Regions from separate parts of the Homo sapiens genome. Here region 2 is linked to region 1. Evidence: fine-mapped expression QTL. A gene starts in region 1. The other region holds a variant in brackets. All regions are shown on one strand. Distances are from middle to middle.

Region 1 (4,387 bases):
TTCTCTGGGCTGGTATTAGTAATTAAGAAATGGGATCATGGCCTTGGGGAAGGTCACAGATTAACCATTAGTAGGACAAGAAATCTGAAATCAGATTTGGGGGTCACTAATAAAAGTAACGAGGAATCTTACAAACTTCAGCAAGAAATGCGAGAGGCAAGCCGCAACAGCTGCATGTGAGCAATGATTTAAAAACAGAAGCAGCAATAGAGAAAATAATTAGGGCTTCCAAGGCCCTTCTTTCATTTTTAAGAACACATAAACCATGAGGAGCGTTTAAGCTATCCTCATTGGGAGGCAGACCAAATGCAGCAAGAGGCAGTTCGGAAATAGGAAGCCTGTGGAAAAAAAAAAGAGCACAGTACCTCTTGGCGCTGGTGGAGAGGAGTTTGGAGTTTTTGCTCATGCTGACTTTACTCTCCTTCTTCTTGGGGGTGTTTGTTTCTTTCTCGGTTTGCTGGTTGGAAGACGAAGATGAGGAGGAGCTGGTGCTGGCCCTCGAATCGTCATCCGACATAGCGAACCCCCCACCCCACCCCGCAAACAGCCCCTGCAGGGGGAGAGAAACAAAACAGAAACACACAAACCATGCAGCCAGTGTAAATAAGGAACTCGGGTGCTGTCAGGAGGGCATTGACCAGGGGCGCACGCGGCCGCCCACCGCCCTCCACTCGCTTTTCAAAGTCTGCAGGCCCATTAAGGCTTTTGCAAATCGGACGCGGCTTGTTTATTTTTGGCCCCAAGTGGGGAACGCTGTGGGAAAACGGTCTGGAGCTAGGAGAGAGGCCCCTCCCTCGCCCCCCGGGGCTCTCCGCTGGGCAGGGAGGGAGTAGCCCGGGAGGCGAAGGAGGGCAGGGCGGGGGGCGCGGGGCGCCACGGCGGGGCAGGGAGGGAAGGTCCCGGCGGCCGGCCGGCCTCGGGGCTGTTTTTGTCCGCTTTCCGGGGGTCGTGAGGGGCCGGTGGCCCGGGTGAGACTGTGGGGCCACGAGCGGAGTTTGGCGAGGTCGGGAAGAGAGGAGGGGCGGGAAGGAGTAAGAGAGGAAGCCGAAACAGGGGGACGGAGGCGGGGAGCGGGTGCCCGGGTGGGGGAAGGGAGAGGCCGGCGGGGGGCAGGGGCGACGAGGCCCGAGGCCCCCCCGCGCCGCGCCCCGACGCCCCTCCCGGCCTGCCTGCCTCTGGCCGCCCTGCTCACAGCTATGCGGCCGGGCGGGGGTCCGGAGCACACGCCCGATCGCCACTCCTGTAGGGGGATAGGGGCTGCGGCGGGGAATGGGGGGGTCGGCCTCCGCAGCGAAGACATAACAATGAGCCCTTCCGCCCCGGAGGGGTTAATCCCCGCGAACCCCCGCCCCTGGGGAAAACGGGGCTCCCCCAACTCCCTCCCACCCCCGCTCCCGGGCCCCTCGGTGGCCAGTGGGGGGCTCTTGGGGCAGCGCTGACAGTTCGAGCCACAATGACCCCCGTCCTCAATGCGGGCGGCCCCCGCACCCCACGCGGCCCGGGGTCCCTGCCCATCCCCCGCGGGCGGGCCCCGGACCCCTGGGGCTCCCCAGCCCCTCTCCGCTCCCCCCCCGCGCCGGCCCCGTGCCCTGCGGCCCGGCGGCCCCGGCGGCGCGAGTCGGGGGAGGCGGCGAGGGGTGTCCCCGAGGCCCGGCGGCGCGGCCGGGGGGCGGCGGGCCGCTGGGGGGATCCCCGTACCTCTCTTTGTGTCTGGCTCCTCCGTGCCGCCGCGGCGGCTGCTGCTGCGGCTGCGGCTGGGCCTGGCCACTCGTGTCTCTCTCTCGCTGGGAGAGAAGCGGAAGTGCAGCAACAGCAACTATTAAACAGGCAATGGCTTCCCCCAGCCACACACGCTCGCACACACACCACTCCTCCGCCGCCGCCTCCTCCTCCTCCTCCTCCTCGCCCTCACCCCTCCCCCACCCGGCCCGGTCCCACCCACCCGCGCTCCCCTCCCCCTGCAACACCTCCTGGGGGTGCGCGAGGAAGACCCAGGAGACCCCAGGAAACCCTGTCCCCCACAGACACCCCCACCCCAGCGCCTCCTCCGGACGCCCGGGAAGGGGGCGAGGGTTGTGAATTTTCTCTTAAGTGGTTTGGGAACCTGGATTCTGGGCGGGAGAGGGGAAGCCGATGGAGATGGGGGGCGCTGGGAGTGATTGGAACTAGATGGAATAGGGGGGTCACGAGAGAAAGTTCTTTCCAATGAGGGCTTTTGGAAAGGAGAGGAGTAGGGAGGTGGCAAATTGGTGAAAACGTTGGTAATCTGGTGGTGGCAAAGACTTTAGAGAATGCAGCGGGTACTCCACCTAAAAAGCGATTAAAGAGAAAAAAAAAATCACACAACAAGGGTTTTCTTTGGACTGACACTTGCTTCTCCTTCTAGCAATTTACCTGCTAGGAGCAGAGGTCAGTTTAGGTATGCCTGTGAGAAAATCCCAAACTAGGAATTTTCTGCTCAGGTCACGCGAGGCACGTGCAGTTTTACAATATTAGATTCTTCCACTCACTTTTTATAGAAAGTGATGTGGTTTTTTATAAGAGTGATACAAAGGTTTTGGTGACAGGTAAAACCAACGTGTAACGGGCTTGCGAATGTGAGACATCACTGGGAATAAGCTATATACTACTGAATTAGACTGGATTTAGAATTTTTTGTGTCATTTTACATTAGATGTAAGGTTTGGTTTTTGGAAATTGGATGCAAAGTTCTGGGGATCGCAGAATCCCCAGATCGCTAAATTGACCAAATTATTTTTAAAATATTAAGCCATTTTTCTCTTTCTTTAGCTACCTATAAATGCTATGCAAATAATATTTTTGAAATGATCAGCAATTCTTCTGAATTGTTCCTTATTTAGCATTTTTGCCAATTTTTTTTTAATATTAAGCCATCAAATTACGATTCAGTTTCTCACCTTTTGTCATTTCAGTTGAAGGGAACTAAAGAGATGTGTGCCATTCAAATACAACAGTGCCACACATACAAGGTCTTGTACATTAAGGAGACAGCCTCAGATTTCCATAGGTCACTCTAAATTATCTCATTCAAACTGCCATCATTTTCCACAGCAACAGTGGCTTCAGTTACCACAGGACAACACAAGATATACAGCCCATGGCATATCCAGTAACCAGGAAAACAAGCATTCTCACGACCCAGCCGAACTCCTTCTAACCATCAACCTGAAATTCCAGCTTTATCAAGACTCATAAAGTAATTGTGCATGCTTCTTGCTCAATCCCTACCAGGAAACCTGTATCTACCAGGAGTTGTCATAGAATAAGAAGTTCAAAAGCTGGAAGAAATCTTCAGGGTCATAATTTCAGCCTCCTGCTTCCAGACAGAACTATTTCTCCACCACTGAAATGCATATAGATTTTGAAAAAATTTCCAGACATAACCTTTCTTAAGTGTTTGGTTTCAGGAGTCCTGGTAGAGTATATAAAAATGATGACATTCTTTGCTATATATTTGAAAAAATTTTTTAAACTTCTGAAAAACTGATTGTATTCTTTTTGTTCTGATGAAAAGATGTAAATTCAGAAGAAAACAATAAGAAGATGAAATAAACTCAGGATGAGGAAAATAATCTAAAAATAGTTATTAAAATTGAAATTTCCTCCTATGAAAATTTGGATTTCTGATACTTAAAAATATATGTCTACATTATGAATACAACCAGTAAAAAAATCATGTGTTATAAAGACAAGAACTAGCAGAGATCACAGGAAAATAAAAGGTTTGATTTGCTGAAGTGATCAGGACAGTAGGTGAATTTTTTCTTTAATATTGGTTTGCATAAATTGCCTACCAGCTATAATAAGAATTCTTTTGTAACAGAACATGATATTTTGTGTTGTGTTACTGATGCTTGGGTTGGACTGATTCCTTGTGAAAGAAATCATGAAATCTAACAGCTCCTCCTATAAGGAAAAGTGATTTCCCAACCACCTGTCTGGAAGGTTTCTTGCCCTCTTTTGTGTACTGTTCCCCCTAATCTCTAATTCCAGCTAGCTTAAGTTAGTGCTTTATCGTTTTGGAATGACCTGATGACAGGGAATAAAAACTTCAAAATGTTTAGAAAAGAATCCAGTCCTCTCAAAAGACTAATCTTTATGTCGAATTATTTTTAAGACCTGTATGCAGCTGTCTTAGGGGAAAAAAAATTCATACACAACTTTCTATCTCTCCTTCTTATTAACTACAAGGCCTAAAAAGCTAAATTGACCTCCCTGAGCCTCAGTTCCCTCATCCATAAAGGGCAGAAATACCTGTGCTCTACTGACTGGCAAGGTCAAATATGTATCTGTAAGTAAGGTGATTTATTAGCTGTTACGCAAAGTAAATTATTAATAATTCCACTCTAGTGGAATTTTCTTAGTT
Region 2 (4,387 bases), 280 kb before region 1:
TACCAGCCACTGCAAAAACATACCAAATTGTAAAGACCGTCAAGGCTAGGAAGAAACTGCATCAACTATCGAGCAAAACAATCAGCTAACATCATAATGACAGGATCAGATTCACACATAACAATATGAACTTTCAATGTAAATGGGCTAAATGCTCCAATTAAAAGACACAGACTGGCAAATTGGATAAAGAGTCAAGACCCATCAGTGTGCTGTATTCAGGAAACCCATCTCACATGCAGAGACACACATAGGCTCAAAATAAAGGGATGGAGGAAGATCTACCAAGAAAATGGAAAATAAAAAAAAAGCAGGGGTTGCAATCCTAGTCTCAGATAAAACAGACTTCAAACCAACAAAGATCAAAAGAGACAAAGAAGGCCATTACATAATGGTAAAGGGATCAATTCAACAAGAAGAGCTAACTATCCTAAATATATATGCACCCAACACAGGAGCACCCAGATTCATAAAGCAAGTCCTGAGTGACCTACAAAGAGACTTAGACCCCCACACGATAATAATGGGAGACTTTAACACCCCACTGTCAACATGAGACAGATCAATGAAACAGAAAGTTAACAAGGATATCCAGGAATTGAACTCAGCTCTGCACCAAGTGGATCTAATAGACATCTACAGAACTCTCCACCCCTAATCAACAGAATATACATTCTTTTCAGCACCACACCACACCTACTCCAAAATTGACCACACGGTTGGAAGTAAAGCTCTCCTCAGCAAATGTAAAAGAACAGAAATTATAACAAACTGTCTCTCAGACCACAGTGCAATCAAACTAGAACTCAGGATTAAGAAACTCACTCAACACCGCTCAGCTACATGGAAACTGAACAACCTGCTCCTGAATGACTACTGGGTACATAATGAAATGAAGGCAGAAATAAAGATGTTCTTTGAAACCAACGAGAACAAAGACACAACATACCAGAATCTCTGGGACACATTCAAAGCAGTGTGTAGAGGGAAATTTATAGCACTAAATGCCCAAAAGAGAAAGCAGGAAAGATCTAAAATTGACATCCTAACATCACAATTAAAAGAACTAGAAAAGCAAGAGCAAACACATTCAAAAGCTAGCAGAAGGCAAGAAATAACTAAAATCAGAGCAGAACTGAAGGAAATAGAGACACAAAAAACCCTTCAAAAAAGTAATGAATCCAGGAGCTGGTTTTTTGAAAGGATCAACAAAATTGATAGACCCCTAGCAAGACCAACAAAGAAGAAAACAGAGAAGAATCAAATAGATGCAATAAAAAATGATAAAGGGGATATCACCACTGATCCCACAGAAATACAAACTATCATCAGAGAATACTACAAACATCTCTACGCAAATAAACTAGAAAATCTAGAAGAAATGGATAAATTCCTGGACACATACATCCTCCCAAGACTAAACCAAGAAGAAGTTGAATCTCTGAATAGACCAATAACAGGCTCTGAAATTGAGGCAATAATTAATAGCTTACCAACCAAAAAAAGTCCAGGACCAGAAGGATTCACAGCCGAATTCTACCAGAGGTACAAAGAGGAGGTGGTACCATTCCTTCTGAAACTATTCCAATCAATAGAAAAAGAAGGAATCCTCCCTAATTCATTTTATAAGGCCAGCATCATCCTGATACAGAAGCCTGGCAGAGACACAACAAAAAAAGAGAATTTTAGACGAATATCCCTGATGAACATCGATGCAAAAATCCTCAATAAATTACTGGCAAACCAAATCCAGCAGCACATCAAAAAGCTTATCCAC[A/C]ATGATCAAGTGGGCTTCATCCCTGGGATGCAAGTCTGGTTCAACATGTGCAAATCAATAAATGTAATCCATCATATGAACAGAACCAAATACAAAAACCACACGATTATCTCAATAGATGCAGAAAAGGCCTTTGACAAAATTCAACAACCCTTCATGCTAAAAACTCTCAATAAATTAGGTATTGATGGGACGTATCTCAAAATAACAAGAGCTATTTATGACAAACCCACAGCCAATATCATACTGAATGGGCAAAAACTGGAAGCATTCCCTTTGAAAACTGGCACAAGACAGGGATGCCCTCTCTCACCACTCCTATTCAACATAGTGTTGGAAGTTCTGGCCAGGGCAATCAGGCAGGAGAAGGAAATAAAGGGTATTCAATTAGGAAAAGAGGAAGTCAAATTGTCCCTGTTTGCAGATGACATGATTGTGTATCTAGAAAACCCCATCGTCTCAGCCCAAAATCTCCTCAAGCTGATAAGCAACTTCAGCAAAGTCTCAGGATGCAAAATCAATGTACAAAAATCACAAGCATTCCTATACACCAATAACAGACAAACAGAGAGCCAAATCATGAGTGAATTCCCATTCACAATTGCTTCAAAGAGAATAAAATACCTAGAAATCCAACTTACAAGGGATGTGAAGGACCTCTTCAAGGAGAACTACAAACCACTGCTCAATGAAATAAAAGAGGACACAAACAAATGGAAGAACATTCCATGCTCATGGGTAAGAAGAATCAATATCGTGAAAATGGCCATACTGCCCAAGGTAATTTATAGATTCAATGCCATCCCCATCAAGCTACCAATGAATTTCTTCACAGAATTGGAAAAAACTACTTTAAAGTTCATATGGAACCAAAAAAGAGCCCGCATCGCCAAGTCAATCCTAAGCCAAAAGAACAAAGCTGGAGGCATCATGCTACCTGACTTCAAACTATACTACAAGGCTACAGTAACCAAAACAGCATGGTACCAGTACCAAAACAGAGATATAGACCAATGGAACAGAACAGAGCCCTCAGAAATAATGCCGCTTATCTACAACTATCTGATCTTTGACAAACCTGACAAAAACAAGAAATGGGGAAAGGATTCCCTATTTAATAAATGGTGCTGGGAATACTGGCTAGCCACACATAGAAAGCTGAAACTGGATCCCTTCCTTACACCTTATACAAAAATTAATTCAAGATGCATTAAAGACCTAAATGTTAGACCTAAAACCATAAAAACCCTAGAAGAAAACCTAGGCAATACCATTCAGGACATAGGCATGGGCAAGGACTTCATGTCTAAAACACCAAAAGCAATGTCAACAAAAGCCAAAATTGACAAATGGGATCTAATTAAACTAAAGAGCTTCTGCACAGCAAAAGAAACTACCATCAGAGTGAACCTACAGAATGGGAGAAAAGTTTTGCAACCTACTCATCTGACAAAGGGCTAATATCCAGAATCTACAATGAACTCAAACAAATTTACAAGACAAAAAACAAACAACACCATCAACAAGTGGGCAAAGGATATGAACAGACACTTCTCAAAAGAAGACATTTATGCAGCCAAAAGACACATGAAAAAATGCTCATCATCACTGGCCATCAGAGAAATGCAAATCAAAACCACAATGAGATATCATCTCACACCAGTTAGAATGGCAATCTTTAAAAAGTCAGGAAACAACAGGTGCTGGAGAGGATGTGGAGAAATAGGAACACTTTTATACTGTTGGTGGGACTGTAAACTAGTTCAACCATTATGGAAGTCAGTGTGGCGATTCCTCAGGGATCTAGAACTAGAAATACCATTTGACCCAGCCATCCTGTTACTGGGTATATACCCAAAGGACTATAAATCATGCTGCTATAAAGACACTTGCACACGTATGTTTATTGGGGCACTATTCACAATAGCAAAGACTTGGAACCAAGCCAAATGTCCAACAATGATAGACTGGATTAAGAAAATGTGGCACATATACACCATGGAATACTATGCAGCCATAAAAAATGATGAGTTCATGTCCTTTGTAGGGACATGGGTGAAGCTGGAAACCATCATTCTCAGCAAACTACCGCAAGGACAAAAAACCAAACACCGCATGTTCTCACTCAAAGGTGGGAATTGAACAATGAGAACACATGGACACAGGAAGGGGAACATCACACACCGGGGACTGTTGTGGGGTGGGGGGAGGGGGGAGGGATAGCATTAGGAGATATACCTAATGCTAAATGACGAGTTAATGGGTGCAGAACACCAAAATGGCACATGTATACATATATAACAAACCTGCACATTGTGCACATGTACCCTACAACTTTAAGTATCATAATAATAAAATTTAAAAAAAGAAAAGAAAATACCAAAAAAATAAAATGAAAAGAAAAAGGCATTGTCATTTTAATGCTGTCTAAGACTCTTAAATTATTTTTAGTAAAATTAGAGTTAAACAGCAGCAGCATACTAGCTAAAGAAGAAATGTGTGACTTTCAAAGCCATAAAAACCTAGCTCCACAACACAGAAGATTTAGAGAGGCCTCAAGTAAAATATCTGACCTGATGCTTACTGTGTTAGTGACTTTGGACAAGCCAT

What was found.
Region 2: its variant is fine-mapped to the expression of UBE2E1 in whole blood (TOPMed, PIP above 0.99).

Annotation. Positions count from the first base shown.
Region 1 is chr3:23,803,400-23,807,786 of GRCh38, reverse strand. UBE2E1 (ubiquitin conjugating enzyme E2 E1) reads right to left here and starts at 1,832. Exons shown (of 6, transcript NM_003341.5): 1 at 1,699-1,832; 2 at 366-550. The coding sequence starts at 517. It overlaps UBE2E1-AS1 (UBE2E1 antisense RNA 1), which reads left to right and starts at 882. Exons shown (of 2, transcript NR_046652.1): 1 at 882-968; 2 at 3,073-3,763. RefSeq lists an enhancer at 317-406 and silencers at 707-886, 1,087-1,386, 1,577-1,706, 1,787-1,896.
Region 2 is chr3:24,078,700-24,083,086 of GRCh38, reverse strand. No RefSeq gene overlaps it. Among named protein-coding and RNA genes, the nearest start is that of LINC00691, 22 kb to the left of the region's middle. The variant A/C (reference allele first, on the strand shown) is at 1,778.